4 separate regions of the Homo sapiens genome follow, and all the other regions are reported to be linked to region 1. The links are microRNA targets in miRTarBase. Many come from high-throughput screens and were not tested one by one. Region 1 holds a microRNA gene; each other region holds the end of a gene's coding sequence.

Evidence for each region. The annotated mature microRNA hsa-miR-6127 reads UGAGGGAGUGGGUGGGAGG and lies in region 1 at 4,983-5,001, opposite strand. An mRNA with a match to its seed (bases 2 to 7 or 8) in the 3' UTR can be bound and repressed. Matches are read on the target gene's strand: a 7mer-m8 pairs with bases 2 to 8, a 7mer-A1 pairs with bases 2 to 7 and ends in A, and an 8mer does both.
Region 2: miRTarBase lists ZDHHC3 as a target of hsa-miR-6127. Seed matches in the 3' UTR shown: 7mer-m8 at 2,074-2,080, 7mer-A1 at 4,568-4,574, 7mer-A1 at 5,418-5,424 and 8mer at 5,863-5,870.
Region 3: the mRNA of SIGLEC10 is a reported target of hsa-miR-6127. Seed matches in the 3' UTR shown: 7mer-m8 at 1,412-1,418.
Region 4: miRTarBase lists RAB6B as a target of hsa-miR-6127. Seed matches in the 3' UTR shown: 7mer-m8 at 1,979-1,985.

Annotation. Positions count from the first base shown.
Region 1 is chr1:22,628,346-22,635,463 of GRCh38, forward strand. MIR6127 (microRNA 6127) reads right to left here and starts at 5,021; the gene lies at 4,913-5,021.
Region 2 is chr3:44,920,813-44,927,930 of GRCh38, reverse strand. It overlaps ZDHHC3 (zDHHC palmitoyltransferase 3), which reads left to right. Exons shown (of 7, transcript NM_001135179.2): 7 at 1,084-7,118. The coding sequence ends at 1,242. Among named protein-coding and RNA genes, the nearest start is that of TGM4, 50 kb to the right of the region's middle.
Region 3 is chr19:51,405,304-51,412,421 of GRCh38, reverse strand. SIGLEC10 (sialic acid binding Ig like lectin 10) reads left to right here. Exons shown (of 11, transcript NM_033130.5): 11 at 1,051-2,402. The coding sequence ends at 1,323. Among named protein-coding and RNA genes, the nearest start is that of SIGLEC10-AS1, 6.9 kb to the left of the region's middle. RefSeq lists enhancers at 2,972-3,472, 4,490-4,539.
Region 4 is chr3:133,822,159-133,829,276 of GRCh38, reverse strand. RAB6B (RAB6B, member RAS oncogene family) reads left to right here. Exons shown (of 8, transcript NM_016577.4): 8 at 425-5,042. The coding sequence ends at 489. It also overlaps a transcript of SRPRB not described here. Among named protein-coding and RNA genes, the nearest start is that of SRPRB, 20 kb to the right of the region's middle.

The DNA of each region.
Region 1 (7,118 bases):
AGGCCAGGCGCGATGGCTCACGCCTGTAATTCCAGCTCTTTGGGAGGCCAAGGCGGGCGGATCAAGAGATCAAGAGATGGAGACCATCCTGGCCAACGTGGTGAAACCCTGTCCCTACTGAAAAAAACAAAAATTAGCCTGGCATGGTGGCGCGCACCTGTAGTCCCAGCTACTCGGGAGGCTGAGGTAAAAGAATTGCTTAAACCTGGGAGGCAGAGCTTGCAATGAGCTGAGATCGTGCCACTGCACTCCAGTCTGGTGACAGAGCAAGACTTCATCTAAAAAAAAAAAAATAGCCAGGTGTCGTGGTGTAAGCCTGTAATCCCAGCTGCTTGGGAGGCTGAAGCACCAGAATCACTTGATCCCAGAAGGCAGAGGTTGCAGTGAGCCGAGACCACGCCACTGCACTCCAGCCTGGGCCACAGAGAGAGACTCCGTGCCCAAATATAAATAAATAAATAAATAAATAACTATTCAATTTACCGGCTGTGTGACCTTGTGTGAGTCACTTACCCTCTCTGAACCTCAGTTACCTCATCTGTAAAAGGGACTGTCACCATGCCACCTCCCCGGGGATTCTGATGATGAAGTGAGGTCGTGTATTAAGCACCCAGTAGGAAGTCCAGCATTCAGTAGGGCTCACAAGGAAGAGCCTATTAGCATCTTGCAAACATACCACGGTGAAGCATCAACCTCAAAACACCCCAGAGAGGACAAGGCTTACCCTGTGGAAAGAATGACTACAGGAGGAATTTCAGGTCCTGTGATGGGCAGATGAGGGAGATCATTTGCACTCCAGGCTCTCCCTGGCCACTCTCTTGTGACCCTCATGCCTATGTGAGCTCCTTGGAAGCTAGCATCTCCCAGCAACCTGGACGTCAGGCCCAGCCCTCTCAAGGTGGAGGTAATACCTCCTTGTTGGCTCCCACAGCCCGATCTGTTTGTTTTCCAAACTCTTAGTCCTCTTAATCTTTTTACATCTTACCTGCCTGGTGGCTTCCGGCTATATTTGCCTGTGGGGAATGTCTCCAGAGCAGCTCCACCCAGTTCCCCTCCGGGCTGGGCTGCCTCCCTCACAGGCATTCAGGGTGTTGGCTTCCAGCTGGGGGGCTTTATTTCTTCCTATTTTTCTTCACTCTCCCCTGCCAATAAATCTTTTCTGTCTTCTTTTTTTTTTTTTTTTTTTTTTTCCAAATTTTCTTTCATGCACCGGCCCTCTGAGTGCCAGGTGAGAGTAGGAGGAGGTAAAACATTGTGCTAAGAGCCTACTGTGTGCCAGAGACCAGCCGCACTACTGTCTGGAAGCCTGGCATAGTTTGAGGTCATCATTCCCAGTTTATAGGTGAGGTGCTAGAGCCCCAGACACAGGAGGTTACTCGTGCAAGATCACACAGCCAAAGAGAGACACACACTGAATTTGAACACATGCTGCCTCCATCTCCGCAACAAATGATCTGTTGTTTACAATCCCCTCTGCGTTTCATAAAATAATCCCAAGAAGTGCTTTTATCTGCCAAGAAAAGTAAAGAATAAAGAGTGTGCACAGACAACACATGGCAGTTCTCTCACACAACAGCTCCCTCCCCAATTCCAAATGCCTCCCCCAACCACTTGCTAACAAAACCCTGATCTTATTGGGTGGTGGGGACAAAGAATGGAAGGATAGACCCCAAAAGGCCCAGAAGGAGGGTTTTGCAAGAAAGGCGAGACTAAGACAATCTCCATAATAAAGAACAGAGAGCAGGAGAGTCAGGGAGAAGGAGGAACAGTGGCTCTGGGCAGAGGGGCCGGGAGATTTTTTTTTTTGCTGGAGACAGGAAGTTGAAGACAGAGGTCTGGAGGAGTGGATGGAAAAGAGCAAAGAGCACTGGTGTCAACTCTATGCCTCCTTCCTGGTGTTCAAATGTACAGCAGAGAATTGAGTGTATCTGTTCACAGGGCTGGGTGGGGCAGAGGACTTGCACCAGAATGTTCTTAGCAGCTTTATTCATCATAGCCCAAACTCTGTACCAACAGAAGGGACAAACAAAGTGTGATACTGCATATGCATACGATGGAATAGCACTCAGCAATACCACGCAAACTGACACACGTAACACAGATGCATCTCACCGGCATGCTCTTCAAAAGAAGCCAGACACAAAAGAGCACAGGCCGCATGATTCCATTGACATGAAGTTCAAGAACAGGCAGAAGGCACCAATGGTGAGGGAGAGCAGAACACCGGTTACTTTGCGGGTGGAGGGGAGCACTGTTGACTTGGAGGGTCACGGCCGCCTCGCTGGGGAGATGGATACTCTGCACTCTGATCTGAGTGGTGGTAGAGGGCCTGTGCGTGCAGGTGTAAGCTACTGAGCAGTGTGCTTGAGATGTGCACATTTTACTCTGTGCAAATTATGCCTCATTTTTTTTAAAAGAAATATACAAGCACCTTAGAGTCGCATTATATACACACTTGCCTATCTCCACTTCGCCTAATAGGACTCAGAGAGAGAATCACAATTTAAGTAAGGCAGGGGATATTGGTTTTTTTTTTTTTTGAGACGGAGTTTCACTCTTGTCGCCCAAGCTGAAGTGCAATGGCCTGATCTTGGTTCACTGCAACCTCCACCTCCTGGGTTCAAGCAATTCTCCTGCCTCAGCCTCCCGAGTAGCAGGGATTACAGGCATGTGCCACTAGGCCAACTAATTTTATACTTTTAGTAGAGACAGAGTTTATCCATGTTTGTCAGGCTGGACTCAAACTCCCGGCCTCAGTTGATCCACCCTCCTCGACCTCCCAAAGTGCTGGGATTACAGGCGTGAGCCACTGCTCCCAGCCAGGGGATACTGTCTTCTAAGAGCCTATTTCTGGAGGGACCGTGGCTGGGAGAGTTCTGCTGTCCCCAAGTCTGCCTCCGCTCCTGTGAACCCCTCATGATCTAAACACCTCACCTCCAAGGGTGGCTCCAGTCTCCAAAGATTCAATTCCTTTGTGTGTGAGTGGTGGGGGAATTGGTTAACCTTAACCAACTGGTACTCAACTGAAGAAAAAGAAATCTGTTCTACTATTGGAGCCAAAACTGACAGCAAAAGACTATTGTGAAACGGTAATACAGTCTTTCACGTGGCGCTGTTTGAAGAATTTTTCCACCATTTACAATGGTGATACTCACCATTTACAATGTTTGCCTCGTATGCCGATTTTGCAACACAACCCTTGAATGGGATGTGACTGCCATAAAGAATTCAAGTCATTTAAAAATTATTTTTTGGTTATTTATTTGACCTTTGATCCCACTCTGAGACTGAACCTCATGGATCATAACTGTGCAAGCATGGCTAGGAATTTCCTCTCTTCCCCACATCTCCTGCCTCCCGTCTAGGAGTCTGGGCTCTGGAGAAATGGAAGAATATGCCCTTCCTCTCCGCCTGAAGGTGTCCCTGTTGTGACATGCACAGGGCCATTGCTGACCCTTTTATTTCTCACACTAATGATATGCGCATTAGTATCGATGTCTTTTATTTCTTGGGAAGTGTTTATACTCTTGCAACAGCCTGATAAGTAAAATCATCCAACACTTGGAAATAAGGCAAATAGATAACCGGTGTCCTTTCAAAGTCAAATGAGAGCTGTATCTAACAAACCCTGCTAAGGGTCATCTGACACTCTAGGGGAATGTCACTTGGCTTGACTTATTATTTACTATTGATTAGAGCCCAGATTCAGTAAAGATAGCTGTTAACTGGTAGAAAACTGTTAAGTTGCAAATTATTTTTGTCTAGTAGAGATGCAAATGATTTCTTTTCAATAGAGAAGATAGCCCCAACATGATGATTTTATTGCCCTATAGAACACTAACCAGTTTTGTATCTAATTTAGCAATTTTATGAATATTCCAGAATTCTTGTTGTTTTAACTGACTCTCTCTGTCTCCATATATAGGTATACATATATATTTTTTTCCATATCCATTGAACTAGCTTTGTCACCCAGCTGGTTCCTCCATTAACAACCTACAAGAGGACACTGACACATTCCCACACTGTATTTCTATAGGAACTGGGTATTCAATATTTTGAAAACTAGACTTTGAGAAGCTTTTCACAGTATCTGATTTTTCCTCTTGCCAACTCTTGCCCCTGTCTGTGTGACCCGGGCAAGTCTTTTTTTGTCTCTGGTCCTTTGTGTCTTCAGAGTAAAATAGGGCACGCAGGGCTGGCGTTTCTGCCTCGGGCATGTCATGTTTCTAACTCCTCTGGCAGGCAAGCAGGGCTGACGCAATGCAGTCAAAGAAGATGGATACTGGGCCGGGCGCGGTGGCTCACACCTGTAATCCTAGCACTTTGGGAGGCCGAGATGGGCAGATCACCTGAGGTCAGGGGTTTGAGACCAGCCTGGGCAACATGGCAAAACCCCGTCCCTACTAAAAATACAAAAATTAGCCGGGCGTGGTGGTGCACACACGCCTGTAATCCCAGCTACTTGGAAGGCTGAGGCAGGAGAATCTCTTGAACCCAGGAGGCAGAGGTTGCAGTGAGCTGAGATCGAGCCACTGCACTCCAGCCTGGGCAACAAAGTGAGACTGTCTCAAAAAAAAAAAAAAAAAAAGAAGAAGAAGAAGAAGAAGAAGATGGATACTGGGCTGGGCGCGGTGGCTCACGCCTGTAATCCCAGCACTTTGGGAGGCCGAGATGGACAGATCACCTGAGGTCAGGAGTTTGAGACCAGCCTGGGCAACATGGCAAAACCCCGTCTCTACTAAAAATACAAAAATTAGCTGGGCATGGTGGTGCATGCGTGCCTGTAATCCCAGCTACTTGGAAGGCTGAGGCAGGAGAATCTCTTGAACCCAGGAGGCAGAGGTTGCAGTGAGCTGAGATCCAGCCACTACACTCCCACCTGGGCAAAAAAATGAGACTCTGTCTCAAAAGAAGAAGAAGGAGGAGGAGGAGGAGGAGACTGGAAGGGATGTTAGAGGCCATTTGGGGCAGCCTTCCCACCTCCCACCCACTCCCTCATCTTGGTAGATGGAGAAAGTGGGGTTCAGAAAGATGAGATAACTTGCCCAGGGTCACACTGTGAGTTAGGTATGGGCTGAGCAGATGAGATTCCAGCTCCACGAACTTTCTGAATCCAGGGAGCATGGGAGGGGCTGTCAGGGGGAGCTCTGGGCCCCCACCCTTCAAGCCAGTATCCCCATTTTTATCTGTTTGACATACATCAGATGCCACACAAGATTGCAAATGAAAAAGAAGTCCCCAAAGCTCAAAAACCCTGGCTCTAGACCATCCTTCATCTGCCCACTTCAACAGCCTTCCCTTATCTCCTCCCTCCTCCTCCTCTTTTCCTCCTCCTGCCTCTGGCAAAATTTTCAGAAAACAAACAAACAAACAAAAACATGCTCATGAGAAGAAGCAGACAGATGTGGTCAGCCCAGGCCTGAACACATTGGTCTCCAGTCTGGGAGAGACAGAGCCTCTCTATCTAAAGAAAAGCATTCTCAGGGTCCAAGCTGACAATGATGCAGTGTGCCGTGCTGACAGGTAATGAGCATCCCATCAGTTAAGGTGAGTAAGGCTAGATGATCTGTTCAAACACTAGCAGCAATTGTCTCTAGATGGTAGAATTCACAGGCTTTTGTTGCTGGGTTTTGTTTTTTGTTTTTTTTTGAGATGGTGTTACAGGATCTTTGGGGTGTCATTTTCTGGCCGGAAACCTCTGTGGCTGGTGGCACCTTTGCCCAAGTTTTGCTCAGGCCCACTGGGCTTGTTTCACTCACTCCTCCTGGCAGGCAGCACTCAGCTCACATTACCAGCCTGGGTTCCACATCTGCCCAGGGCAAGTCAGGCATGGAACAGTGAAGGGTGTGTGAGTGAACATGGGGTCTGGCCACTGCACACAGTCAGACATGCCGGCTGCTGCAGCGGGGTGAGCAGCTCCAGGTGCCAGCATGGGCGCCAGCTCTCTGAGAGGTTGTGGCTAGACCAAGTACACCACAAGCAGCTTCCACAGCTGGCACCGGGGAACACGGTGGCACCCAGAAGCTTCGAGATGCCAGGAACCACAGGGCCCCGAAAAGGGAGTCACAGCTCCAGCTTGGGGAGCTCCCAGGTCTGGGTTCCCCAGAGGGCCGCAGCTCTTCTTTCCTTCCCTTCACCTGCATCATGGCAAGCAAGGGGCATGTTTCAGCCTTGTTTGTGTTACAGCTCTTTCAGCCCCACCATTTGATGGGTCCCAAGTTCTTATCCTGCAACCAGGAAGAATGAGGTATGCAGACAAGTGGGGAGTGAGCAAGACGAAGAGGAGCTTTACTGAGCGATAGAACAGCTCAGCCTCCTGCAGAGCCTCCCTCAGGGGGCAGCTCCTTTCCACAGCCAGGGTGTCCTGATGAGTGTTCAGCTGCTAGCAGAGAGGAGACCCTGGAATGGGAAGCTCCTCTCTGCAGGCAGGTCATCCTGTCGACTTTCCAGCTCTCAGAAGAGGGAAGACCCTGGAATGGGAAGCTCCTTTCTGCAGGCAAGTTGTTCTGCCATCTCTGCAGCTCTCAGCAGAGAGGAGGCCCTGGAGCGGGTAGCTCCTCTCGGCAGCTGGTCATCCAATGTCTGCCCAGCTCTGGCTGAGCCTGAAGCTTTCATGAGCCTCAGAGAGGAGGAAGTGCATACTGATTGGTCCATGGGTGGCTATAGGCAAGCCCAGAAAATACACCATAAGTTCCCACTCTGGTGTGTGGGACTGGCAGCCTGGCCCCCAGCCTTGAGGCCCTCCCTGGCTTGAAGGTAGGGCCTCACCAGGGACCCATCCCCTTCCACCCAGGAGCCTGTCTGTCTCCTGCTGCTGTTCATGGTGCCCAGGCTGTTCATGCCAAGGAGCGTCTGCAGGCCAGTGCCGAGCTGCCCTCAGTTTCCCCTTGGCTTTCCTTCCATGCTAGTCAGTGCCCAAAGTCCAGAGGGGGCCAAGGCAGCAGGGGTCTAGTGTGTCAGCACTGCCCCAAGCATGCCCACACCCAGCCAGGCTGCGACAGCACCCAGGCTCAGCACCAACTTTGCTCTAAGATCAGAGTGGGCGCCAAGAGGAGGGAGAAGCCAGGCAGTGGGAGCAGACACTTCTGAGCCTGAAGGGTGGGGCGGGGGGCCTT
Region 2 (7,118 bases), not on the chromosome of region 1:
CCCACCTGGGAAGGGGTGTCTTCCCTTTGGCCTGTGCCCTTCCCAGGTCCCTAGGCTGTGAAGAAAGACCCAGACTCAGCTGTCCTCCCAGCACCCCTTTACTAGAGACCACAGCAGACAGACCCCTGGCCAGGCTTCTGCCAGGCTGCTCCTGTCCTTTCCCTCTGGGCAGGGGCCCCGTTCTCAAGCCCTGCCCTTTGACCAGCTCCATCTGAAGAAGAGAGAGAGGGAGGAAGCAGCTCTTTCCCCAGCCCCAGTTTTTTCCTGAGACTTAGCAGGGGAAGCAGCGCTGGCTCCGTGACAGCTGCTGCATAGGTCTGCGCCATGCTTCTCCCCAAAGGAGCCACTAGGAGGACCTTTGCCATGCCATGCTGGCTGGCCTGGCCATGCCACCCTCTAACCTGTACTAATCCCTCCTCCTTCCTCCTCTGGTGACTTCTCCCCTCATTCGTGGTCTGTCACTCCTATTCAACCTTCTCAGTTTGTGTCTCACCAGGCCCACTAAGCGGGGTGCTGCTTGATCCCCCAGGCTGGTGAGACACACAACGCCAGAGCAGTCATTTGATTTGTTACTTTTTTTTTGTCTGCAAGGTGGTCATGGTAGCTTCAAACTTCCTAGGAACCTATCCCAAATTAATGGCCATCATTGGTTATGATGATTGCGAGCTCCCCAACAGCTCTGAGGCCTCTCACGCCAAAGCCTTCATAGTACTCCATCCACAGCCCAGCACAGAGTTTCTGAAGAGTGCCTCTGCAGAGCTCAACAAGGGGCCAGGGCTGGAGAGACGCGCTCCTTATCTTAGCGACACACCCCGGCCTGGCATACTTACAAGCAGCAGTTTCTGCGCTGCTGATAGTGCTTCTTTTTCCCTCCCTTCTTGGAGGGACTTGTGAATGAGTGCCCACCAAAAAAAGGAGAAATTTTTTTAGTAACACTTTTTATGAGAAAGATATATTAGGTAGATAGCTTTGTTGCTTTAAAAAGGAAACATTTACTCCATTCACCTGTCGCTGCGGACATCCCTCCCCAGAAACCACAGCAATGCAGTGCTTGACTGAAAGTATGATTGTTCTTGTTTTCAGGGAATAGAACAATTGAAAAAGGAAGAGAGAAGATGGGCTAAAAAAACAAAATGGATGAACATGAAAGCCGTTTTTGGCCACCCCTTCTCTCTAGGCTGGGCCAGCCCCTTTGCCACGCCAGACCAAGGGAAGGCAGACCCGTACCAGTATGTGGTCTGAAGGACCCCGACCGGCATGGCCACTCAGACACAAGTCCACACCACAGCACTACCGTCCCATCCGTTCTCATGAATGTTTAAATCGAAAAAGCAAAACAACTACTCTTAAAACTTTTTTTATGTCTCAAGTAAAATGGCTGAGCATTGCAGAGAAAAAAAAAAGTCCCCACATTTTATTTTTTAAAAACCATCCTTTCGATTTCTTTTGGTGACCGAAGCTGCTCTCTTTTCCTTTTAAAATCACTTCTCTGGCCTCTGGTTTCTCTCTGCTGTCTGTCTGGCATGACTAATGTAGAGGGCGCTGTCTCGCGCTGTGCCCATTCTACTAACTGAGTGAGACATGACGCTGTGCGTGGATGGAATAGTCTGGACACCTGGTGGGGGATGCATGGGAAAGCCAGGAGGGCCCTGACCTCCCACTGCCCAGGAGGCAGTGGCGGGCTCCCCGATGGGACATAAAACCTCACCGAAGATGGATGCTTACCCCTTGAGGCCTGAGAAGGGCAGGATCAGAAGGGACCTTGGCACAGCGACCTCATCCCCCAAGTGGACACGGTTTGCCTGCTAACTCGCAAAGCAATTGCCTGCCTTGTACTTTATGGGCTTGGGGTGTGTAGAATGATTTTGCGGGGGAGTGGGGAGAAAGATGAAAGAGGTCTTATTTGTATTCTGAATCAGCAATTATATTCCCTGTGATTATTTGGAAGAGTGTGTAGGAAAGACGTTTTTCCAGTTCAAAATGCCTTATACAATCAAGAGGAAAAAAAATTACACAATTTCAGGCAAGCTACGTTTTCCTTTGTTTCATCTGCTTCCTCTCTCACCACCCCATCTCCCTCTCTTCCCCAGCAAGATGTCAATTAAGCAGTGTGAATTCTGACTGCAATAGGCACCAGTGCCCAACACATACAGCCCCACCATCATCCCCTTCTCATTTTATAAACCTCAAAGTGGATTCACTTTCTGATAGTTAACCCCCATAAATGTGCACGTACCTGTGTCTTATCTATATTTTAACCTGGGAGACTGTTGTCCTGGCATGGAGATGACCATGATGCTGGGGTTACCTCACAGTCCCCACCCTTTCAAAGTTGACATATGGCCATCCCATTGGCCAGAATCCACAGACACACCTAAGCCTGTGGCACTGGGACAGAATAGATTTTCCATTTGAGAGGCACTTCCTGTGTCAGTCTTGTTTGAAGGAGGTGGTGATGGTGGATAGAGGTGAAGGAGGTAGGGAGTGCCCTCCAAGTGCAAAAATAACAAATATGATTATTGACCATCGGGGAATTCTCACACATTGATTTGTTTTTTAAGCAATTGCCAGAAACCCCCTTTTTTAGCTTTTGCTTGGGGTGGGGGTAGGAGTTAAGGTTTATTCAATCCTGTCCTGGGTAGGGCGAAAGTTAATCTAGCCATGTGATTTTTCAGAAAAGTAAGTGGAACATGCTGCCACTTTTCAATTCTGTCAGTGCTTCCACATGGAAACAAAATGCAATAAAATTTTTCCAAAACCTGTTCTGATTTAGCTCTCTCTTGAGGTGTTACCCTTAGTGGGAGGCCGACTATCCACAATCTACTTGAGTTTTCTCTGGTTGGGTGTTTGTTTCATTGCTCTGTCTCTTGAATGAGGATACTTTATTTTTTTTGTTTTAAAATGCATTTATGGTCCCTCTCTTGAACCAGCTTGCCCCACCAGGCCTCTTTCCTTTGCTTTCTGCAGCCTGAATCAATTCCTTTGTGCTGATGGGCTCTCCTAAGAGCTTTCCTGAGTCAGTTAACTTTACCTCGTGTCTACGGTGCTATTCATGCGATACGGGCGAGGCTGAGATGCTAAGATTAAAAAGAAAAGAATGCTGTTTTAGATCAAGTTGATAGCATTTGTTTTCCATATGCTTTTTTAAAATTTTTTCATAACATACAGCTCAGTTAGGTGTATGAAAGAAGTGTTATTGTATTAAATAACTAGAGCAGGGCTACAGCTCTGGCCCTCCCCTAGGGGGAAGAGATTGGTAATACTCCATCTTCCAGGGCATTTTTTAAAGTGAGCCAGGTTAGCTCTTTTCCCCTGGCATTTCTCAGGAATGCAGTAGATAGTGCTGAAGATGCACTGACTTTTTTTTAGTCCTAAAAATAGAAACTCCTCCTTTAAAGCTGTGCATACTATGCTTATCTTTCCAATAGAGTGGGGTTCCTTCAGATATCCTATAGGATTCTGCCTCTGGTTTTGTATAGGCCTTGGCTAGAAAGAGTCAATGTTTCTGAGCTCTCAAACCAGTTGCTCTCAGAAGATAGGAATACCCCAAGGTTCCTGGCATTTTTCCTATTTCATTTTTGTTCAGACTGATATTTTGCCAAGAGCACAATGACTGAGGAATGTAGCCATCATTTGCAGGGTAGTGATTGGTTCCCAGCCTGGCTTCCACACAGGACAGGAAGGGAAAGCATCCCTGAGCTCTCCTCAGTATTTCCGGATGTAATGAAAGAGGACATCTTTCTACACAAAGTCAGCCCCAACTTTTGGCTTGGTCACAGGAGTTCTGATAGTACTGTTTGGTGCACTCATGGGAAATTGAACCAGTCGTAGCCACAGTCTTTCAGAGCCTGGGCTCTGGGGAGTGGAAGTGAAAAATAAAGATGTGGCTTGTTGGATTGTGATCCCCAGCTTGCTTTCCTTCTGTCAACTCTGTCAGGTTTGTGTTCATAGCAACTAGACTGAATATGCAAAAGGCTTAGATCCAAGCAAATCTATAATCTATGCATATTTGCATGGGCTTGGTAATATCATGTACACAAAACACATTTGGGTAGAAGTGCATGTGCTAAATCTCCTTTTAGTCCCACCATTTTGTCTTCTTCATACTGTACTTCCTCTTTTTTGTTTGAGACAAGGTCTTGCTCTGTCACCCAGGCTGGAATGCAGTGGCACAATTAGAGCTCACTGCAGCCTTGAACTCCTGGGCTCAAGTGATTCTTGTGCCTTGGCCTCCTGAATATCCAGGGCTACAGGCACGTACTACCATGCCTGGCTAATTTTTTTGTTTTTTAATAGAGTCAGGGTCTCACTGTGTTGCCCTAGCTAGTCTCAAATGCCCGGCCTCCAGCAATTTTCCTGCCTTAGCCTCCCAAAGTCCTGGGATTACAGGCGTGAGCCACTGGGCCCAGCCCTGTACTTCTTGAAAAAGCCCCAAGTATTAGCTTTTGCTCATCTGGCTAGGCCACTTAAATAGTTAGAATCCACCGTCCCCTAATGCAGAAACCGTTTAGGTGAGGTAAATTAACAAACATTTTAAGCCGGGCGCGGACACTTCTCACTGTGGACATCCCTCACGCCTGTAATCCCAGCACTTTGGGAGGCCGAGGCGGGCAGATCACGAGGTCAAGAGATCGAGATCATCCTGGCTAACACGGTGAAACCCTGTCTCTACTAAAAATATAAAAAAATTAGCTGGGCGTGGTGGCAGGCGTCTGTAGTCCCAGCTACTTGGGAGGCTGAGGCAGGAGAATGGCGTGAACCCGGGAAGTGGAGCTTGCAGTGAGCCAAGATCGCACCACTGCACTCCAGCCTGGGCGACAGAGTGAGACTCCGTCTCAAAAAAAAAAAACAAACATTTTAAACATGTATGTGAGGTTGGCATTACACAGAAACTCCTCTCCGGGTGGGCTGGGATGGGCTTTCTCAGCCAGGCTAATGGGTTTTAAATTTCTCTCTTTTCAAGACTTGCAGTGCATCAGCTTAAAGGGTGAGCCAGCCAGTAGAGGGGAAGGCGCCCCACCTAGAAGGTGCCCTTAGATATCAAAGAAATGTGAAAAGAGAAAGATTTTGCTAGAATCCTCCTCAAAGGTGTTCTTGAGGTTGCCAGACCAGCAACGTCAACATCAGCATCACCTGAGAACTTGTTAGAAATGCACATTCTCGGTCCCCACCCCAGGCTACCGAACCAGAAACCGAGCGGGGCCCAGCAGCCCGTGTCTTAACAGCCCTCCAGGTGATTCTGACTATCAAGTTTGAGAATCCAGTTGGGGCTAGCAGGAGTCCCCCCTCAGGTGGTCCCTGATGCCTGCTGGTGATATGGGTCTTGTGTGCTGCTGGGCTCAGCATAGTGCAGTTGGGGTGTGCTGATTGTGAGACAGGCACGTGTTCCCTCCGCGGAGAAGCCACTGAGACTGCCTTCCCTCATAAGCTGCGGCCTCCCCAACAAACAACTGCCAAGACATCAAAGAAAGTCTGTATGAAGCAGATCCAAATTATTAGCCTGCCCACCACTCCTTGTGCATCTCATCAGTGGAACCCATCTCTAGACCAAGGGCCCTTTGGGTGAAGAAGCAGCCCGGAAGGGAAAGAGAAAAGAGTAGAACCAAGGGACCTCCAGATGGGAGCGGCGGCCGGTGAGTAGTCTAGAGCCAGGGGCATTGTAGCAGCCTGGATACATGACCTGAACACGTCTTGACCTTTGCTTTCTACGTGTGGGTTTCAACACCCATGTGGCTTTTTCTTGTATTCTTTAAATATGTATCTGGCTTAGGATCACCTCATAGAAGAGAAAGAATTCACAGTGAAGCAGAAACAAGCCACTGACCAGCGTACTCCCAACCTGAACCTTCTTTTTCTCACCCTCTCCCTCAAGTAAACATCTTGCTGACTTGAGCAGTGTGATTGCCGTAGCAAAGCAGAGTGGCCCCCAGGGATCCCGCTCTGTTGGGCCCACAGGAGGAGCCGATGAAGCTGATCCAAGGAGTGAGGACAAGCGCTGCAGAGGGACGTTCGCTAAAAGCCTTCTAGGGGCCGCACATGCTCTAACACGGACATAAGGATGCCCTGAATTTCTGCAGCTGAGGCCATATAGTCTGGTGACCAAGTATTTGGGTCCTGGCTTCAGTCTTTGGTTGAAATGTCTGCTTGGCTACTTATTACCGCACCTACTACCAAAATATGACCTTGAGCAGTAACTTCTTTAAGCCTCAGTTTTTTCATCTGAAAACGGGAATGATAATCTAAATCACAAAGTTAATGGAAGGATTAAATGAGGGTGATGAATAGGAATGTATAGCGTCTGGCCCTGGTATGGCTTTATAAATGTTAGCTGTGTTGGAGCTGTGCTTTTCAAACCATTGGTCACAGCCATTCATGGTTTGCAACCAGCATGTTTTTCAAGAAAAATGTTTAATGCATTACATATTGCAGGATAAGTATTGTTTTATGAAGCTTAGGGAGTTGTGTGTATATGTGTTCTGGAATGCAACAGAAAAATGTTTCCTCTTGTGGGTTACAATATAGAGGTATGAAATCTCTGATGAGGAGAGACAGTGTTATCTGGCCCGCTATGAAGAGACACATTTGCATAGGCTGCTCCCTGAGGCTCTGGCTTTCTACATCTGATGATACAGGGAGCAGGGAACAGCCTGTTCTCGTTCTGTGGGGCTCAGCTGAGTCTGTTCTGCACAGACTCTTCCTTCCTCGGGAGCCTTAGTCCTAATACATTCATTTTGGAGTGTTGGTGAGTTTGTTCACAGATCACAGCTCATGTGTCACCCAGACTGACCTGGGCCAAAAGGCCCATCACACACCCTGCAAGAGCTTCTGGTGTCGACTATGACCCCCTTACCAGGCATCAACCATTTTTGTTCGTTCTCTTGAGCCTGAAGCTACTATTACTGCTCCTCTGCAAACCTCAAGCTTAAGAACTTTGCCTGCAGGATCCCTTTAAATCCACACAAAACTCAAAATTGAGTCCTACCAGGAAAAAGCAGCCCTCAGCCCATTTTTATACATCGGATTTGTTTGCAATATTTTCTTTCTAGACTCAAAAGTCAACACTCCCTGAAAGTTTGTCGACTTTACTGCTGAAGACCTCTGGTAGACAGGCCAGGCTC
Region 3 (7,118 bases), not on the chromosome of region 1:
CAGCCAAGTCTAAAGCTTTAGAATCATATTTCACTCCTCTCTTCTCTGTCACCCCACAACCAATCCATCAGCAAATTCCCTTCAAAATACAACCAAGCCAGTTCTCCCTACTCTTCCCTCACTACTACAAGCCATGCATCAACACCCCCCACCCCACCCCGGGCACCACTGGCCCCTTCTGCATGCCTTCTCTGCTTCCGTTCTCACCCCCTCCAGTCTTTCTCTCCGTGCATGCATGCTATTCTTTATTTTATTTATTTTTATTTTATTTTATTTTTTGAGATGGGATTTCACTGTTGTTGTCTAGGCTGGAGTGCAGTGGCAAGGTCTCGGCTCACTGCAACCTCCACCTCCTGGTTCAAGCGATTCATCTGCCTCAGCCTCCTGAGTAGCTGGGATTACAGGCATCCACCACCATGCCCCCCTAATTTTTGTATTTTTAGTAGAGACGGGGTTTCACCATGTTGATCAGGCTGGTCTCAAACTCCTGACCTCAGGTGATCCACCCGCCTCAGCCTCCCAAAGTGCTGGGATTACAGGTGTGAACCACCGTACCCGGCTATCAATTATTTTTTTGAAACAGATTTTGTCTCTGTTGTCCGGGCTGGAGTGCAGTGGCGCAGTCTCAGCGCACTACAACCTCCACCTCTCAGGTTCAAGTGATTTTCCTGCCTCAGCCTCCTGAGTAGCTGGGACCACAGGCATGTGTCACCACGCCCGGCTAATTTTTGTATTTGTGGTAGAGACAGGGTTTCGCTATGTTGGCCAGGCCGGTCTTGAAATTCCCTGGATGACCTATTAAACAGTCATCCCACCCTCCCTTTCGCTGCCTTCTAAAGGTGCTCAAATTTCTTGATGGCATTTGTCACTTACCAGTCATTGTACTTTTGCTAATTATTGTCTGTTCCTCCTTCCAAGATGGAATGCAAGCTCAGCAAGGCAAGGGCAGGGACTTAGTTTCACTCTGTGCTGTAAATCAGTGCCCGACGCGTGGTAAGTGCTCAAATATTTGCTGAATGAATGAATGAAGGATGGTGGTTCTTCCCTCAGGCTCAGAAGCGGAATCAGAAAGCCACACCAAACAGTCCTCGGACCCCTCTTCCACCAGGTGCTCCCTCCCCAGAATCAAAGAAGAACCAGAAAAAGCAGTATCAGTTGCCCAGTTTCCCAGAACCCAAATCATCCACTCAAGCCCCAGAATCCCAGGAGAGCCAAGAGGAGCTCCATTATGCCACGCTCAACTTCCCAGGCGTCAGACCCAGGCCTGAGGCCCGGATGCCCAAGGGCACCCAGGCGGATTATGCAGAAGTCAAGTTCCAATGAGGGTCTCTTAGGCTTTAGGACTGGGACTTCGGCTAGGGAGGAAGGTAGAGTAAGAGGTTGAAGATAACAGAGTGCAAAGTTTCCTTCTCTCCCTCTCTCTCTCTCTTTCTCTCTCTCTCTCTCTTTCTCTCTCTTTTAAAAAAACATCTGGCCAGGGCACAGTGGCTCACGCCTGTAATCCCAGCACTTTGGGAGGTTGAGGTGGGCAGATCGCCTGAGGTCGGGAGTTCGAGACCAGCCTGGCCAACTTGGTGAAACCCCGTCTCTACTAAAAATACAAAAATTAGCTGGGCATGGTGGCAGGCGCCTGTAATCCTACCTACTTGGGAAGCTGAGGCAGGAGAATCACTTGAACCTGGGAGACGGAGGTTGCAGTGAGCCAAGATCACACCATTGCACGCCAGCCTGGGCAACAAAGCGAGACTCCATCTCAAAAAAAAAATCCTCCAAATGGGTTGGGTGTCTGTAATCCCAGCACTTTGGGAGGCTAAGGTGGGTGGATTGCTTGAGCCCAGGAGTTCGAGACCAGCCTGGGCAACATGGTGAAACCCCATCTCTACAAAAAATACAAAACATAGCTGGGCTTGGTGGTGTGTGCCTGTAGTCCCAGCTGTCAGACATTTAAACCAGAGCAACTCCATCTGGAATAGGAGCTGAATAAAATGAGGCTGAGACCTACTGGGCTGCATTCTCAGACAGTGGAGGCATTCTAAGTCACAGGATGAGACAGGAGGTCCGTACAAGATACAGGTCATAAAGACTTTGCTGATAAAACAGATTGCAGTAAAGAAGCCAACCAAATCCCACCAAAACCAAGTTGGCCACGAGAGTGACCTCTGGTCGTCCTCACTGCTACACTCCTGACAGCACCATGACAGTTTACAAATGCCATGGCAACATCAGGAAGTTACCCGATATGTCCCAAAAGGGGGAGGAATGAATAATCCACCCCTTGTTTAGCAAATAAGCAAGAAATAACCATAAAAGTGGGCAACCAGCAGCTCTAGGCGCTGCTCTTGTCTATGGAGTAGCCATTCTTTTGTTCCTTTACTTTCTTAATAAACTTGCTTTCACCTTACCGCCTCGTCTTGAATTATTTCTTGTGTGAGATCCAAGAACCCTCTCTTGGGGGGTCTAGATCAGGACCCCTTTCTTGTAACACAGCTACTTGGGAGGCAGACGCAGGAGGATCACTTGAACCCAGGAAGCAGAGGCTGTGGTGAGCCAAGATCACACCACTGCACTCCAGCCTGAGCAACAGAGTGAGACCCTGTCTCGAAAAAATAAAAATCCTCCATGGATAGGCCATCTCATCCCAGACCTGGGCATTCGGAACAGCCTGACAAATCTGTCCTGAATGGCCTTCTCTGAATATGGTGTTCTGAGAAGGCAGGCAAAGATTTGCCTTTGACACACCCCAGCTCCAGTCCAGAGGACTGCGCAGTTTCATGGGTTCTCAGAGATGGGAGGGTCTTTAAAGATGACTAGATACAGCCAGGCGCAGTGGCTCACGCCTGTAATCCCAGCACTTTGGGAGGCTGAGGCTGATGGATCGCTTGAGGCCAGGAGTTTGAGACCAGCCTGGCCAACATGGTAAAACCCCGTCTCTACTAAAAATACAAAAATTAGCTGGGCGTGGTGGTGCGCAACTGTAGTCCCAGCTACTCGGGAGGCTGAGGCAGATTTGCTTGAACCCAGGAGGCCGAGGTTGCAGTGAGCTGAGATGGCGCCACTGCACTCCAGCCTGTGCAACAGAGCGAGACTCTGTTTAAAAAAAAAAAAAAGACTAGATAGGCTCCTCAGTCACCTCCAGCCTGCTGCCTATTTTCATACCACCTGCAAGCTAGAAATGTTTTTACATTTAAATGCTTGGGGAAAAAGTCCGAAGAAGAAGACTCTTCTGGGGCCCCTGGGAAGGAGATGAAATTCAAATTTCAGTGTGGTGCCCAACCATGCTCATTCCTTTACACATTGCAGTTATTTTCATGCAGAGTTGAGTCACTAGCCTGCAAAGCCTAAAATATTTACCATCTGATCCTTTACAGAAGTTGGCTAGATCTTAATCTACATAAACTCATTTGTTTTCACAGAAGAGGAAGCGAGCGCAGAGGTCCATAAAGAGTTCAAGAGTAGCCGTGGGAAAAATGACTAGGTCTGTGACTACAGGAAGGTTTTCAGGGTGAGGATTGGAAGGGCAGGAGACTGCATGTGGATGGGGTGCTAATGCGCTCTCAGACCCACAAATCTAAAGAAGTGCAAACGCATGCGGGGATGGAGGTTGGAATGCTTTGGAAATGGAACAATGACAAACTTACAACATGCTAAGAATCACACAGTGGCTCACGCCTGTAATCCCAACACTTTGGGAGGCTGAGGTGGGCGGATCACCTGATGTCAGGAGTTCAAGACCAGCCTGGCCAACATGGTGAAACCCCGTCTCACCTAAAAAAATACAAAAATTAGCCAGGTGTGGTGGCGGGCACCTGTAATCCCAGCTCCTCGGGAGGCTGAGGCAGGAGAATTGCTTGAACCTGGGAGATGGAGGTTGCAGAAGCCGAGATCATGCCACTGCATTCCAGCCTGGGCAATAGAGTGGGACTCCGTCTCAAAAGAAAAGAAATAGAGCAAAGGAGAGCACTTTGCTGGCCATCTCCTCTGCTGACCTCTGCTCCTCCATAGCCACCCAAGGGGCCTTTCTTCGGTAGTTATTGCATCGTTGGTGACATGGCAAGGTGGCCCTCTCTGGTGTGTTTTGTTTCCTGGCTGTGCTAAACACTCCAGATACTGAAAAATAAAAAATTAAAAACTGAGCTGGACACGGTGGCTCACGCCTGTAATCCAGCACTTTGTGAGGCCGAGGCAGGCGGATCACTTGAGCTCAGGAGTTCGAGACCAGTCTGAGCAACAGAGCGAGAGCCTGTCTCTACTAAAAATACAAAAATTAGCCAGGTGTGGTGGCAGGTGCCTGTATTCCTCAGCTATTCAGGATCCTGAGGCATGAGAATCGCTTGAACCTGGGAGGCAGAGGCTGCAGTGAGCTGAGATCGCGTCACTGCACTCTAGCCTGGGTGACACAGCGAGACTATGTCTCAAAAACAAAGAAAAAACCTGAATTAGCTGCAAGGACCAAAGTTGGCCACCAGACGTCGGTATACCCAGGATGATAGGACTATAGACTCATGGTGTGGAATGGGATCACCCAATGCAGCCACCTCATTTTACAGAAGGACTTCAGAGAGGGACAAGGTCTTGCATGTCACACAGCTGAACTCCAGAGCTGGGATTCAAACTCAGGCCCAGGATGGGTGAGCACTGCTGGTTACACAGTCTCCTTTAAGCTTAGAGTGGGAAGGATGCTGCAAGGGCTTGAGAAAAAGGGAACTCCCTACAAGCTGCACAAAGACTGAGACTCTGCTTCCTTCCTTCTACCACCAAATTCTGCCATGAGAGCAACCCTTGAAGATCTGTTTGACCTGGGAAATTACAAGATTGCATTGCTAAGGCACCAGGTTTGACTAGGTGTCAGTAACTTTGAAATGTGTGTGTTAAGGTCCTGACTTCTGCAATAGTGACTTGGGACTTGGAGGGAGGGCATTGTTATCCAGTACTCTTGGGGAAAGGCAATGTTGTGCAAATGAAAACAAACAAACAAACAAACAAAAACACCAGGCTTGGAGTCAGAAAACCCAAGGGGAACTTTCCGTATTGCCAAATATTCTTTTTCTTTTTTTTTTTTTTTTTTTGAGACAGTCTCGCTGTCGCCCAGGCTGGAGTGCAGTGGTGCAATCTTGGCTCACTGCAAGCTCCGCCTCCCGGGTTCATGCCATTCTCCTGCCTCAGCCTCCCGAGTAGCTGGGATTACAGGTGCCTGCCACCGCGCCCAGCTAATTTTTTGTATTTTTAGTAGAGACGGGGTCTCACTGTGTTAGCCAGGATGGTCTTGATCTCCTGACCTTGTTATCCGCCCGCCTCGGCCTCCCAAAGTGCTGGGATTACAGGCATGAGCCACTGCGCCTGGCCCCCAAATATTCTTTTTAACCAGTCAACTGGGACATTAACTGCAGGAAGTATGAATATAAAATAGTTATATGTTTTCTGATCACTGAGTCAATCATGTTTTTTTGTTTGTTTGCTTGTTTGGTTTTCGTTTTTGAGACAAGAGTCTTGTTCTGCTGCCCAGGCTGGAGTGCAATGGTGCGATCTTGGCTCCCTGCAAACTCTGCCTCCCGGGTTCAAGCGATTCTTATGCCTCAGCCTTCCGAGTAGCTGGGACTACACGTGTGCGCGCCACCACACCCAGCTAATTTTTGTATTTTTACTACTAGAGATGGGGTTTCGCTATGTTCACCAGGCTGGTCTCCAACTCCTGACCCCAACTGCTTTGCTTGCCTCAGTCTCCCAAAGTGCTGGGATAACAGATGTGAGTCACCGTGCCCAGCCTCCTCTGTTTCTTGATATGAGAGTTGTGTCCCCTGCTTCTCCCATACCTTCTCCAATTCCACCATTGGCAGACACCATGCAGCCTCTTACCGCTTTCTTGGGTGACATATCACCTAGATTGCAGAAGCCCAGCTACCCTCCTTCGTGTCCATCCACCCCCTGCTATAGACAAAATGTATGTGTCCTTCCAAAGTCTAGGTTGAATTCCTAACCCCCAATGTAATGATATTTGAAGTCAAGACCTTTGGAAGGTGATTAGGTCATGAGGGTGGTGCCCTCATAAATGGGATTAGTGCCCTTAATAAGAGACCCCAGAGAGCTGTCCCTCCTACCAAGTGAGGACACAACCAGAAGGCACCATCTGTAAGCCTGGAAGTGAGTCCACATCAGACACTGAATCTGCTGACATCTTGATCTTGGACTTCCCAGCCTCTAAAACTATAAGAAATAAATTTTCATTGTTTACAACCCATCCAGCCTATGGTATTGTTGTTATAGTAGCCAGAAAGGACTCAGAAACCCACACATCCTAACCATGCTGGACTGTGGAGTGCAGGCTACACTGCCCCAAGCTCCTCGTTGCCCCCAGCTTTTCCTCTCTAATGCTCCTCTCCCCTGCGCAGGGAGATGCAGGGCACAGCAAGAAGTTGGCTGCCCACACAGACACCCAATGGGGAGATAGTGTGTTGATTCCTCCCATTCTATCAGGAAACCCTAGTCTTTCCTAAACATTTTCTTGGAGCACCCCCTCCTATCCAGAGCCCTGGTACACGTGAAGAGTTCAGGAAAGAGAGGATGATGAAGCATCTCACCAAAGACTTCTCACCTGTCCAACAGCCAGCTGGCAGCTTTGTTTTTTTGGGAAGCTAGGCAGAGAGAAGCTTTCTGACCCCATTATTGGCTGCCCTCTTTAAACCATTTAAGAGGCAACAGAAAAAGTCCTATTCGGGGCGGGGCACAGTGGCTCACGGCTGTAATCCCAAGACTTTGGGAGGCCAAGGCGGGTGGATCGCTTGAGGTCAGGAGTTCGAGACCAGCCTGGCTAACATGGCAAAACCCTGTCTCTACTAAAAATACAAAAATTAGCCAGATGTTGTGGCGGGTGCCTATAATCCCAGCTACTTGGGAGGCTGAGGCAGGAGAATCACTTGAACCTAGGAGGTGGGTGTTGCAGTGAGCCAAGATTGCACCACTGCACTCCAGCCTGGGCAACAGAGTGAGACTGCATCTCAAAAAAAAAAAAAAAAAAAAAAAAAAAGAAAAAGAAAAAGAAGAAAGAAAGAAAGAGAAAAAGAAAGAAAATGTCCTATTCCTGGAAACCATCATTCTGAGCAAACTGTCGCAAGGACAGAAAA
Region 4 (7,118 bases), not on the chromosome of region 1:
GCAAGGCCCACATACCCCTGTGCTTTGAGATGTGAACCCAGCAGGCTCTTCATCTCCATTGCACTTTGAGTGGGGCTGACAGGTAACTGGGCTGAGGCCAGGGCTGGGAGCTGGCATTTGAGCACTGGTCGAGGGAAGGCTTCTGGGAAAGGGACTCCCTGGCCTTGGTATAGATGGTGATCCCACGGCCCAGGCAAGACAGGCTTTGCTTGGGTGGACAGGCGCTGGGGGAAGTGGACGGGTGAAGGGAAGAGGAGGCAAGGTGGAGTTGGTATTGCATCCTTCCTAGCCCAGCCAAACCAAGAGCCAAGTCCCTAGGTGTTTGCAGAGAAACAGAGCAGTAGCCAAAGGGTACAGTGCACAGGGCTAAGTGGGGTGGCAGCTTGTCCAGGAGAGTCATCTTCCTTAGCCCGTCCCCCTGCAGTGATCGACATCAAGCTGGACAAACCCCAGGAGCCCCCGGCCAGCGAGGGCGGCTGCTCCTGCTAATGCAGAGCCGACCTGTGGCTTCCCATGACACTCCTTGCTTGTTGTGTTGCTTCCTATTGGCTAGCTTCCTAAGGGGGGAGGGAACCGAGTTATCAAGATGGGAGGATTTTTCTTTTCTCTCTGTCTTTAGGAGTAGGGTGGGATGGGGAGGGAGGCTGGGCATCAGGGATCACATCACTCTTAACGGCTGTTACTTAAACAACTATTTTTTGGTTTGGTTGTAATATATTGTACTTTATTAAGATTGCCAAAAACTGTTAAAATTTAAAAAAAATTTAAATCATGTGTATACAATTTTTTGCCAGATAAAAATGTAGTCATTTTTATTTGAAAGATGTGCTTTTTGTTTTTGTATATTTGTAAACTTATAGAGAACCTTTTCCACACACCTCCTCCTTCCTGTTCTCTTTGAACCATTCATCACCTCTGCCTTCCTCCTATCCCCAGCCCAATAAATTAAAACAATTAACTGAGCAAATTAATTAGGCTTCAGTCTGGGGCCATCTGGCCCCACTCTCTAGGCCCTACTCCAGTTAAATCAAACATTGGTTGAACACATCAGCCTCTGAAAAGGTAGCTCTGACTCTTGTCTTTCCATGGCCAGAGTGGGTCGTCAACCTCGTGTGGAGCTGAGACCAAGGTCTGTGGGCTCTAGGCAGCCCGGCAGCAGCCCCCAGAGGAACTGCTCCCACCTCTCCTTCTCTTTCCCTGAAAAGCCTTGAAGGGGGTTGAGGGTACAGGCAACCTTGTGTTCTCTGTGCCCTCAGGGACTGGCAGAGCAAGAGGCCATCAGAAGGACGAGGTGCTGTTGGCAATTGCAGCTGCGTGGTGCGTGGTTTATAGACTGGGGTGCCATGTGTACTTCTGAAAATATTTTAACCAGCCCACCCAGCAGTCAGTACACATGCCTGGGCCAAGTCTAAGAAACTCAGTGTGTGATGTTGGGCAGTGTGCCATCCTGAAGCCTTCCTCCTGGATGTCAGGGAAGCTGGACCACCTGGAGTTGATCCTCTGTGATGGGGAGGCGGGGGGGGGGGGGGGTGTTGTCTGCAGAACCACCACCTTGAAAGATCCATGTTCTTAGAGCCTCAGCTGCTAATATTGTTGAGTGCTTTCTGGAAAAGCTGATTTGTTGCTATGTTTTCACCCCAGTGGCATGGCGCAGTTGAAGTCTTTGTGGACATATCTTTGTGGCTACTGTGGCTGCGCTGTGGTCACCTGAGGATGTGGTTCAGGTGGGGTCTCCAGAAGGCTGCTTGCCCCCAGAGAGCCATCTCTTCCATTTTTGATTCATTCCTGAGAATGGCTTAGTCCTGAGAATCTGCAAAGTCTCTGAAGAGAACTCTCTCTTCCCACTAAGTGATATAACCTACTTGGCCAGCATTCCAAATAGACTCAGACTCACTGCCCTGAGCCTGCACAGAGCCAGGTGCAATGGGCAGTGAGTCTGGCCAAAATGTAAACCCCACCCTCCCTGCTGTCATTGGCTCTCCCTCCAGGCTGCTGCTGGGCATGTCATAGATGGGATGAATGACCATCTGGGGTATGGTGGGCTGAACTCCACAAGGTCGTTGGAATGAATTTTGAAACTTCTCAGAAATTAATCTGAAATGGCAGGCAGTAAGTGCAGCAGAATCTGGCAGGACTGATATTTGTGCAGTGGGCCTGCCACACACCCTCTGCCTAGGAGGCTGTATGCCAGAGCTCATCTCTAGCAAGGAATTTATCTTCAGGTGAAGAAGAGAGGAAGCAGGATCCCACTGAGCACCTCTTGCAGAAGGCAAGGACCAATGTTTGAACGTGTTTCAGATGTCATGTGTTTAGTTTTTATATGTGTGTACATAATTATATATAGAGATAGACTTGTGTATACACCTTCCACAAACACATCCTCACGGAGATACATGTGCTCAATGTATATTCTTGTTTCTCCTGCTCTCAAGTTGGAACTTGCATTGTGATAAGTTTTGGAAATTCAAAAGTACTGCAACGTGTTGAAATAAGAAATACTTAATATTGTCAAATAACTTGTGATTGTCTTGCCATCAATAAAATAATGCATAGTTGTGTTAAACTACAGGCAAACATAGCCCACGGGAATATCTCCACCATTTCTCTATGTACTTTATATGCACGGGTGTGCATGCCTGTGTGGGCCAGTGTCCCCCCACCATGGGCACACCCCCAAGTGGTGCTTGTTGGAAGAGTGCTTACTTACCTCGAGAGAATTTACAGGAGTCCACATGACAGTGTCCTGCCTGGTTGGCAGCGGGGGCCATCACCTGTGGCCTCTGAGACCGCCCCATTTACAGGAATCTGCACTGGGTCTCAGTGAATGAACGTATGGTAGATTTTTATTTTCTTGGCACTAAAGATTAGCTTTTTTAAAAAAACATCCCATAAAACAGTAGAAACTCAGTTCCCTTCTCAGGGGCACACACATCCAAGGCACCGTGGACTGTGTTTCCATCCTGGCCTAGAGGAGCAGTAAAAGATAGCATTTGGTTTGACATGGCCTTAGTGAGTCCTGCCTTTCCTAGCATGCACACAACATCCTCTCTTTGAGTTTGGGTTCTCCCCAGCCCCTTGGCCTCTGAGGCTGAGGGTGGCTTCCTCCCATCCTCCCATCTCAGTGGTTCCATGGCGCTCCCTTCGGCACGTGCGGTTTCCGCCCCTCCCTTCCTGGGGTGTGGAAAGGCAGCCAGACCTCTTTTTCAGAAGTTGTTGGTTCCCTGATTTTTGTCTTGAGCAGGCACCATCCCTGTCCCCTTGCTTGCAGGTAGAATTGGCACAGAGTTAAGGTTCCATAATAAACTGTTAGGTGCTCTTGAAGAAGATGTCATGGCATTGCCTCAGCACCCCAGCAAGAGCATTGCATCTTTGCTGAATCCAGATGGGTTAGCAGAGGGCAAATTGGAGGATTCCTTTGAGGAAATGTTCTCAATTGAGCAATTCAGTCCCTCTCCCCAAAGACTAGACGTGACCTGGCAGATTAGCAGGATCCTCTTGGCCTTCTTTTTTGGGGATGGTGGGAGTGAAGGGGGTGAATCTTAAAAGCTTATCAACAAAGCTCCTGTTCTGCAGGCATCAGGAAAGTTGAGTGTAAGATGGAAAAAGCAAACAGCCTATTTACAAGTGGAAACACATTGGTTCTGATCACTCCTAACTTGCTGGGTGATCATACATACATCAACATGAAGGTGTGACATCAGAATCATGAGCACCATGGCTGCAGTTGTGTGATCCAAGGCTAGTTGGCTTGGTAGCTGTTGGCAGCAGTTTCCCTTGGTCAGAGGCCTCCTTGCTATCTATCGCTGCTCTCTTCTTGTCATCCTTAAACATTCAGTCATGTTCCCAGGTCTGAGGGGAGCAATGGCCAGACCAGTTTCAGTATCTCTGGCAACAGAAACAAGGATTGAAATGGTGGTAGTTAAGAGTGCAGACACATCTGGGGTGCAACGTCTGCATCATCCTGGTGGCTAGCCAGTGCGGGGAGGCCCTGCCCTGGGATACCAGTTGTGACAATAAAGGGATGGCCCTCCTGGCTTCAGCATCCTGCAGGTAGAGCAGCCTCATTCCTTCACAAGATGGAAGGCAGGTGAGGATGTCAGGATGAGATGGGACCAGGTAGCCGAGGACAGTGAGGCATGTCTGAGCCACTTGAGGGGCAGCTGAACAGAAGGATGTCTGTGTGCATCAACCGAGCAGATTGTGCGCACACTCGTTTCCGAACTGCCTCTCCCCAAAGAATGTGAGGCATTGTCACCTTGTTACAGCTATGTGAAGCAGAGCTGTCACAACTTTTCCTGTCTACAGGCAGGAAAACCAGGATGGAGAAGGGCAACTTGCTTATTAAGATCACCCAGCAAGTTAGGAGTGATCAGAACCAGTGAAGTTTCCATTTTTCATCCATTGCTGCCCTGTGTGTGAACAAATGTGACTCCATATTTATTACACAGCAAGGACTGCTGTGTGTGGGTGTGTTCCTCAGACCATCTCTACTCTTTTTGGTTAGGACACTAGGTTCTTCCCAGCATATGAGTGAGAATATTGGTGGTATTTTGGGCTCCTCTACTGCACAAGGGCCAGTCCCCAAGTCTACTCTGATTGATTGTCATGGGCACCCACACAGATCAGGACACCCTTTGAATTTTTGTTTGACATGAACTATTTAGGTGTTCCAAAACCTTGGGATCTCAATGTGCAAACTCCTTGGACTCCAGACCCCTGTCTGGTTGGCACTCCCAGCAGTGTGTGGTTTCATCAGGAAATCCTTGCAGCAGGGGTTTAGATGGTTCCTTCAGGAGGTGGGAAGCCTCCATAGCATTGAAGGCCAGCCTGCATCTCGCGGTGTGTGTCCACTTCTCCCCTCACTTTCCCCTCACCCATCCCTTTAAAGTGATTGGCTGTGAGGAGCACAGAGGGTGGCAATTCCATCTGTTATGGGCTCAGAAGACATAGCCGCCATGTTGATTTCACATTAAACTGTGTAAAATGTGGAAAAGACTCAGCATGTTGGTCAAACAATAAACTGTCCTAATTCTCAAAACAAAGCTTCTTGTCTGTGTTTAAGTGGTGCAGTCATAAATGGGGGGGTTCAAAAACAGTTCCTGAAGTGTGTGCTCCACAGAGTCCCTTTTGTCATGCCTGGGTGGTATGTCCACTACCTAAAGCCCTTTGCTGCTTTGCTTCTTCCTCCTACTGGTGGAGTTGGGCTGTCCACCAACTCCGAAGGGGTAAAGATGGGACACACTCATGAGAGTAAATCCACACGCATTCCCCTAATCTCCATTCTGCTGAAAGGCTGATGGGAAGGGAGCCTCCAGGCAGAACTGAGTCAGGGGTACGATATATTCCTTCATCCCCACTCTGCTTGCCATGGCTAGGGGATTAGGAAGGGGGGAGAGGGTACAGGGACTGGATCTCTCATGCTTCTGGTGATTTTCAGAAAGCCATTTAAAGGCAAGAACTTAAGGTGAACTATAATGACCTTTGACAACATCTAGCTGCCATATTCCATCCCCAGCCCCACACCACACCAGTTAGGAACATCCCTGAGTGGCCCCTCCAGGTCTCAGTTATCTCCAGACTAAAAGATGCTCAGAAAGCCAGCACAGTCCTGGGACCAATCCAAAGAGGAACAAAGGCCAAGATTAGGTAAATTGCCCTTGCCCGGGAATCTCACTCTTCTTCAAGTCCAACTTCACTAATTACCTTTCCTTTTAAAGCTTATAAAGGTTCCAGAACACCCTCCAATCTGCTGCCACCTCAAGGAAGCCATCTTTGATTAGAAGAGACATTGAGGCCAGGAGTTTGAGAACAGACTGGCCAACATGGTGAAACCTCATCTCTACTAAAAATTAGCCAGGAGTGGTCCCACAGGCCTGTAATCCCAGCTACTTGGGGAGGCTAAGGCAGAAGAATCACTTGAACCCGGGAGGCAGAGGTTGCAGTGAGCCGAGACGGCACCACTGCCACTCCAGCCTGGGCGACAGAGTGAGACTCTGTCTCGACAAAACAAAAAAACCCTTGAAACAATATATTCAAGTCAACAGAACATGGCCATGTGCCTCACACATCAGCATCATGGGAACACTGGCACTTCAGAGGCCAGTGGAAAAGTGGCAGTCCCGTTGGGGCTGCATGGCTGGCAGCTGACCACAAGCCCACACAGCGCTTAGGAGTCAAGTGCAGCAGTGATGGAGCTCACACTACTGAGAGAGCAGGGAAACCACACTGAAAGGGCACGTTTCTTAACCTCAGAATGGGGCTACTAGCCTCTAAAGCAGGAATTGCGTTTTGTTTAGTATTTCCATGGTCTGCTGCAAGGCGTGGCCTTTACCCAATGGATAAATGCGTACAAGGCTCTTGTGAGCAGTCAAGTTTCTCGAGGTTTACAGTTGAAGGGAAGTGGGATTGTTTTCCTGCGCATTTAAATGAAGGTAGGTGGGTGATCACCTTTCCTTAAATGTGTGAAGGGATGAGATAAAGAGATAGGCATCTTAATTGCCACTGATGGCCTTCAGGTGAGGACAGGCATGAGCCAACTGAAGCTTTGACAATTGTGCTGAACCCAAAACTTCAAAAACAAGAAAAAACATAGACTGGCTGAAATGATCTAAGTCAACAGAGCATGGCCAGCGCTTCATACAAGGCAGGACCACAGGGGAACACTGACAGCCCAGGAGGCACTGAGACAGAGGCAGTGGGAAGAAGTGACAGACCCCAGGGACTCCCCACCAACAGCAGCTGCTGTTGATTAGGAACCCCCAGTAGACTGTCAGGCACCTGGTAGTGGAGAGGCTACCAAGGCCCGGACTGGAGAGGAGCCAAAGGAAGAAACAGTGCAGTGCTTAGACCCCTCTGGGTCTGCCCGTGTCCATACCCACTAGGGAGATTCCATTCCAGAAGTGGACATATTCACCAACAGAGTGCCTGGGGCTCACTCATCACAGCTGCCCCTCCATGAGGGCATCTCACTGCAGCCTTAGCAGGGAACAGGGTCATTTGCATTAGGCAGCTGCTGTCCTAGGAGGTCTCGGTGTCCATACACTGCCATGTTCCCAAGGTGTTTCAAGCTCAAAAGTCTCATCTATGTCATACAGTCGTGCCTAGTTGGCCCGTCTCCA